Homo sapiens: one gene and its partner. The protein of the gene in region 2 interacts with the protein of the main gene of each other region in a biochemical or structural test. Each region holds a gene or a part of one and is shown on either strand. Other genes may lie near its edges. The genes, in order: EIF4E and IPO5.

Region 1 (3,825 bases), on a different chromosome or scaffold from region 2:
GGACTGGGCCATTTGGTATTCATTAAGAAATCTTACCATAAACTTAGGAATATTTGATAGTGTGATGAATAGGCTGATAATTTAATTGGCTGTAGTATGCTTTAGTATCAATATATCTTATTCTATTTGTTTATAAAAATTGAGAGAGAGTTACTCTGTGGGCACATACTGAGATTGATTTTGATGAGAGCTTTGATTATCCAGTCTACTCCTTCCTTTATATATTTGAGCAGACTGAGTTTATCAAGCATTCTTAACCTTAGGAGCATGGGTCCTTGGAATACTTATTATTGGGCTTTGTCAGTTGGTAGAGGGACGGGACATTCATTAACTGAAATTGCATAGTTTTTGCATGTATTTTCTAGCTGTAGAAATGTACAGAGCTTCTAAAATATGTTTGCTTCTCAGAAAGTTTAAGAACCTTCAAATTAAGTGAAACCCAAGATTTGATAGCTAATAAGTGACAAAGCCAGGACTCTAATTCTGCAATGTCATGCCTCTGGCTTTAAGTCTTATGTGCTGTTTAAAAACTACATCAATGGCAGTTTTATGGGCAATAAAGTAAGAAGTTGACAGTGTTGTTGCTTAACTGTTTCTAATGATTATCTCTCAAAGTCAAGGTAACAATGTTGTGTAATACTGTTGTCTTCTAACCCTGTAGGATGGTATTGAGCCTATGTGGGAAGATGAGAAAAACAAACGGGGAGGACGATGGCTAATTACATTGAACAAACAGCAGAGACGAAGTGACCTCGATCGCTTTTGGCTAGAGACAGTAAGGTTTTAAAAGTATAAAGCAGTTTTAGAGGTAGTTTTGGAATACTGATACTTAAGATATGTTATGTTTTACATTTGTTACTTAATTTAAGAGAAGGATGCCCAACACTAGAAAATCAGGGTCAGTAATTATTTTTGTTCTGTCATATGACTCCTGTTTATAGTACAGTGAAACATCCTACCACATTATAAGTCAGATATTTTAAGTGATTGGCAGTTGACTCTCACCACAGTAAGCTCACTGTGGTCATTTCATTAACCTCAAAATTATAGAACCTTACATTTTGTATGATTGAAGTTTTTGCAACCCTCTTACAGCATTGCTATATGTATACTAAACTTTTAAATACTTATATTTTTAGAGCGAGGGTCTTGCTCTGTTGCCCAGGCTGGAGTGCGGATATTTATTTATATGGCTCATTTCAGCCTCACCCTCTGGGTTCAAGTGATCCTCCCACTTCAGCCTCTTAAGTAGCTGGGACTACAGGTGCATGCCACCATGCCCAGCTAATTTTCTAATTTTTTTCCAGAGATGGGATCTTGCTATGTTGCCCAGGTTGGTCTCAAACTTCTGGCCTCAAGTGATCCTCCCACTTCAGCCTCCCAAAGTGCTGGAATTACAGGTGTGAGTCACTGTGCCTGTCCCACTAAACTTTTTAGATTAGTGAAGCAAATAATAAAATTGTTGTGTACTACCATTTGACCTACATGTTGTGATATTAACTGGAACTTCTGGCTTTACAAGACAAATTAAATATGAGATAATAAGCATTTTCTGTAGACAGAGGTTCCAAACCCCAAGCTTATAGGAGCGGGGTTTGTAGTCTCTTTTGTATCCCTAGCACTTGAAACCGTGCCTGGTTTATAGTTAGCACTTGTTAAGTTAATCACTTTAAATGTTTGAATAAGTGACTATTTTGCTTTTTTTTAGAGACAGGGTCTTGTTCTGTCGCCCAGGCTAGAGTGCAGTGGGGCCATCATAGCTCACTGTAGCCTCCTGGGTTCAAGCAATCATCCTGCCTTAGCCTCTCAAGTAGCTGGGACTACAGGTGCATGCCAGCACAGCCAGCTAATGAATGAATGACTTTTTAAGAAGAAAATTCTGTTTTTGAGGGGGAAGATCATGAGCAAATACCATTTTTGAATTCCACATTAAAAAGTCAGGACATTTCCATTTTGCAGTTAAAAAAAATCTTCTGGAGATGGATGGTAGTAGGGATGGTTGTACAACAATGTTGAATGTACTTAACACCACTGAACTGTACACTTAAAGGTGGTTAAAATGGTAAATTTTATGTTATTTGTATTTTACCACAATTAAGAAATCTGTTAGGGCTGGGCTCACACCTGTGATCTCAACACTTCAGGAGGCTGAGGCAGGCATTTCACTTAAACTCAGGAGTTCAAGACCAGTTTGGGCAACATGGCAAAACCCTGTCTCTACAAAAAATACAAAAATTAACTGGGTATGGTGACATGTCCCTGTATGTATGCCCACCTACTCAGGAGGCTGAGGTGGAAGGATCATTTGAGCCCAGGAGGTTGAGGCTGCAGTGAGCTGTGATGATCCCACTGCACTCCAGCCAGGGTGACAGAGCAAGACCCTGTCTCAAACAACAACAACAACAAAAAACCAGACCATTAACAAATATTCATAAAAAATAAGAACAAGAGGAGATTAACCATGAATAGCTATTTTTATTATTCTATTAATATTTGTTTGCTCATAAATATAAGCAGCAGCAGAGCAAATGAATATTAATAAAATCAGCTTTTATGTCTGCCATGACATTAACTGCCAAATTTGCTGAAAAAGGCTGATTTGATAGTAAATAAATGAATGAGTATTTAAAAGTCAGGACAGATCAATATATGCAAATAAAATTTACACATTTAAAAAATTAACTCTTGATTTAAAAACTGCCTTTAGTTTCTATGCAAATACAGAAGAGACATTTGCAGTGTAATGAGCTTGTTTATAATCTATTAAATGTAATTTGGGATTTTTTTTTAAGCTTCTGTGCCTTATTGGAGAATCTTTTGATGACTACAGTGATGATGTATGTGGCGCTGTTGTTAATGTTAGAGCTAAAGGTGATAAGATAGCAATATGGACTACTGAATGTGAAAACAGAGAAGCTGTTACACATATAGGGTAAGTTTTGCTCTTTGCCTACTTATTTTACAGTATTAAGATGAGTAAAACCAGAAGTTATTTTATTTGTAGCTTTAGAAATACTTCAGTTTGTAGATCCTGTTTTCCTTGTATTGTTTTCGTGAACACTTTTATAATTTTGAACGGCTCAATTGGTGCGCAACGTCTTGTTTTTTTGGGTTTTTTCACAGCTATTTATTTATTTATTTATTTAGAGATAGAGTCTCACTCTGTTGTCCAGGCTATATATAGTACAGTGGCATGATCTAGGCTCACTGCAACCTCCGCCTCCCGGGTTCAGGAGATTGTTATGTCTCAGCCTCCCGAGTAGCTGGGAATACAGGCGCATGCCACCATGCTTGGGTAATTTTTATATTTTTAGTAGAGACCAGGTTTTGCCACGTTGGCCAGGCTGGTCTTTTAACTTTTGGTCTCAAGTGATCCGTCCACCTCAGCCTCCCAAAGTGCTATCATTACAGGCATGAGCCACTGCGCCTGGCCTTTTTCATATGTTTTTTATTTCTGTAAAATTGCTTTTTCTTAGCAGTGAAGTATATAACCACTAGAGCACTCTCCTTTGGCATGTAGCATTTTTTATTCATTCACAAATGAGAATGTATTATTTCCTACTTTGAAAGTGCTGTTTGGAAAAAAGTACTACTTTGAAAAGAGCTAATGTATGCTCATAATAATAATTCAGTGATTATTGGCAAATAGTATATGTGCATTTAAAGCATGTGTGTTTACTACGTATAATTTTCATTAAAATTTATATAACATATCTTGGTTTTTGTTCCATGTTTAAAACCCACATATGTAGGGTTTTATTAAACCTTTTTTTGTAAATTTTATTCTTTGCAAAAGTGGCTTTTTTTTTTTTTTTGAGACAGGGT
Region 2 (3,825 bases):
ACTAAGTAACATGGTGAAAAAGGCCCCAGACCGTCAACAGTGTGACTCTAGGCAATCATTTAACACTGGAATTTTAGGTTACTCATCTTTAATATAGTGAAAGCACCACAAAATACAAATGGTTGTTGTGAGCAGTATGTAAATGAACTAGGTAAACCTCAAGGTGTTTTGTTGAGTGAGGTATTACAACAAAATGCACATAGCACCGAAAGACATATCAGTTTAATTTCAAATTACTTATTCATAAATTAAGAGAGGAAATATATCTGACTCCTCTGCTAAAGACTGATAATTACATCAGAATGACAAGTCACATAAATCAGAAATTGAGGCATTTACAAGTCTTTCAGATGCAAGTGGTCACGTAAGTAAGTTCCAAAGGGAATAACTTACCTCATCTTGTAGTGACTCTTCGACCTGTTCATCATAGTCTTCATCTTGTCTTTTAACTAAAACACACCCAAATAAATGTTTTAAATGATTGCCAAGATGGTCAAGGATTATATTCAGAAATAAAAGCATGGAAAACTTACCTTGTCGTAATTCTTGATTTTTAAAATGTTCTTCAAGCTTTGCTTTCAATATACCTCCCAGTTCTTCAAAGTGTTCATTATTAAGGCATCCATCTCCCATTACTTCAATGCACTAATGAGGTTGAGGAAAGAAAGCAATCCATAAGATTTGGGGTGTTTGGAGTCCAAAGTTAAACTCCACTAAGAATCATATGGAAAAATGAACACAGTTCAGTATCCTGGAAGATTATTTACATATGCTTAGCTTGTATTTGTTAGAATGACAGCATTTTAGAGATTGGAGTTAGAAAAAAATATTTTCTTTTGAACACTACTGAGCATACCTAGGTGCCAGGCATCATGCTTGGTACTGAGGATTCAAAGATGGAAAACACACACACACACACACACACACACACAACCAGCTCCTAAGGAACACAATTGCTATATCCATACTCCGTACACACAACATACAAGAACACTGAAGGAAGGGCATTAGAGGTAGAAGAAATAAAATATAGGCAAAGGTATGGAAGCATGCTGTCTTTGGAAAATCAGAAGCAATTCTGAATTACAGGAGTGTAAATAAGGACATATAAAGATGCTGAGAAACTGTAAATCTTCAATCAAGATTGGAGCAAACTAGAGTTGTGCAAAATGGGAGTGACACTGTATGAGAAAGGAAGTGACTCAATGAAGAGGAAGGCAGTGCTTGAGGAAAGGAGAATGAACTGAGAGGAAAAGAAAGGAGACATCTGGAGTAGCCCAAGTGAGGCTATTTCAATGGCATGAAAAAGAGATGGGGCAATGAAAAAAAAAAAAAAGAGAAGAATTGAGGAAAGTGTAAAGAACAGAAACTGGAGATGATACCCAAGCTTCTATAGTTGGATTATTAAGTGCAAGACTAAAATACTAGAGTATTCAGAATTTCTTCTCTTTTTCCAAAGAATGCATGCTTCCATGCTGCTGCCCATATCATTCCCTCTACCTATACTGCCCTTCCAAGGCAAATTTACCCTCTTTAAAACAAACATAATAATACCAAAATATTAAAACAAAAAATTTAACATTTTTATTTTTTAACAAATCATACACTATAGCATATAAAAATTTATTTAGCTGCCTTACATCTGCAATCCCAGCACTCTGGGAGGCCGAGGTGGATCACCTGAGGCCAGGAGTTTGAGACCTGAGGAACATCTACTAAAAATACAAAAAGTAGCCAGGTGTGGTGGTGCATGCCTATAATCCCAACTACTTGGAAGGATGAGGCATGAGAATTGCTTGAACCCAGGAGGTGGAGGTTGCAGTGAGCTGCGATTGCGCCACTGCACTCCAGCCTGGGTGACAGAGCAATACCCTGTCTCAAATTTTTTTTTTTTACTTTTAGCAAGACTAATAAATGAACATACAACCTTATACATATTTTTTAAGAGAAAAATATTCACCTTTGCAAAAGAATGCATTATTTCTGAGAGGACGTCTGAATCTGGTTCTGTACCAATGGCCTTAATTAGAGCATCACACATAAAATGCCACATCTGTGTGAGATACTCAGGACCACGGACTCTTGCACACTCCAGGAGAAGAGGCATGGATTCCGCTGCTGCCACTCGAACACGTTTCATTGTTAAGGAACCTCAAAAGACTGTTTATTATTTTGCTTAAATGTTAAAGGGTTCAATGCACTAAAAGGAGTGCTAGGCAACTTCTGTTTATCTAAGATACCCAAGAGCTTGTGTTAAATATAAAGCATGTATAAAAATAGAAAAGACATACCTCCTGTCTCCTCTGTCACCTGTAATAGTGGCAGGAATGAGTCCAGCAGCAGTGAAGGGCTGCCTATTGCTCAAATGTAAACCAAAATACAAAAATGACTATGGAAGGACCCATGACCATTAGCATGCCTTAAGCTGTACCTACCTCAAAACCTTAGGTACTATCTGTTTCTAATAAAAGCAACTGAAGTATTTCCCTGAAAAAGACCACCGAGGACCTCTTCCTATGCTGGCCTTTTCAGTTTTTAATAAAGATTAAATTGCCTTTCCCTATCTAATCTCATTTATAAAATAAGGTCTTGATAACTTCCTCTTAAAAGCAATCCCGCTTTGTCCTCTGGCATCCTGGGAAGTTAAGTCTTTGTTGGGTAAAAGCTGTCTTCTGTAAAGGATACCACTATAGGATACCGTAAAAGGAATGATGACAAACGGGCTTTGGAGTCAGACAGATCTGGGTTTGTGTCTGTCTACCACTCTCGTGTGTAAAGGCATAAAAATGTACTGGAAAATATTAATTACGGCTATCATTATGTTGAGAAAGATATTGGAACGCAGATGTGGGTGGATCACCTGAGGTCAGGAGTTCGAGACCTGCCTGGCCAACGTGGTGAAAGCCCGTCTCTACTTAAAAACAAAAACAAACAAACAAAAAATACAAAAAATTAGCTGGGCATGGTAGCGCATGTCTGTGATCCCAGCTGCTCAGGAGGCTGAGGCAGAAGAATCGCTTGAACTTGGGAGGTGGAGGTTGCAGTGAGCTAAGATCGTGCCATGCACTCTAGCCTGGGCAACAGAGTGAGACCCTGTGTCAAAAAAGAATGCAGATGTGCCAAGTGATGTTTCCCCGCAAAGGTGCTATCCACATTTGAAATGTAGGGTTCTCACTGCTACAGAAAGCTGACCATCTATCAGTGGTTCTCTAATCTATTAAGACAGGTCTTGCCAGGCACAGTGCTCAGGTGTGTAATCCCATAACTTTGTGGGGCCAAGGCAGGAGGACTGCTTGAGCCCAGGAGTTTGAGACCAGCCTGGGCAACATAGGCAGACCTTATCTCTTAAAAAAAAAAAAAAAAAAAAAAAAAATCAAATCTAGCTGGGCTTGGTGTTGTGCACCTGGGTCCCAGCTACTTGGGAAGTTGTGGTTTCAGTGCGTCCTGATCACGCCACTGCACTCCAGCCTAGGTGACAGAGTGAGACACCATCTCTTAAAATAAAAGTCTTATTTTCTTAACGTTTACCAAAAGATATTTGGGGAAAGTAGCAACTATATATAATTGTAATCATTTGCTAATTATCCTTAAATCCTTAAGTGGGCCACAGAAAGCTGACAAACATAGGATAGGTCACGTTTTCTTTTTCATGTTTTGGCACAAGTGGAAACAAAGGCACATGCAGAGAACCGAGTTTATCACCTAAGAGTACACTTAGTGCAAATACAAACAATCATGGTGAAGTCTACTTCAGTCAACACTGTCTAATACTCCAAGAAACTACAAGTTTACTAAATCTAGACATGTTTTGTATTCAGAAGTTGT

Evidence for each region.
Region 1: the proteins of IPO5 (region 2) and EIF4E form a complex in vitro, tested with the Homo sapiens proteins (one study listed by IntAct).

The regions. Positions count from the first base shown.
Region 1 is NC_000004.12:98,884,029-98,887,853, reverse strand, and holds part of EIF4E (eukaryotic translation initiation factor 4E), read left to right. Parts: intron 1-661; coding exon 662-775; intron 776-1,307; coding exon of another isoform or gene 1,308-1,400; intron 1,401-2,792; coding exon 2,793-2,932; intron 2,933-3,825. UniProt on the Homo sapiens protein: Acts in the cytoplasm to initiate and regulate protein synthesis and is required in the nucleus for export of a subset of mRNAs from the nucleus to the cytoplasm which promotes processes such as RNA capping, processing and splicing.
Region 2 is NC_000013.11:98,012,350-98,016,174, reverse strand, and holds part of IPO5 (importin-5), read right to left. Parts: intron 2,134-3,825; coding exon 1,961-2,133; intron 646-1,960; coding exon 534-645; intron 450-533; coding exon 394-449; intron 1-393. UniProt on the Homo sapiens protein: Functions in nuclear protein import as nuclear transport receptor. Serves as receptor for nuclear localization signals (NLS) in cargo substrates.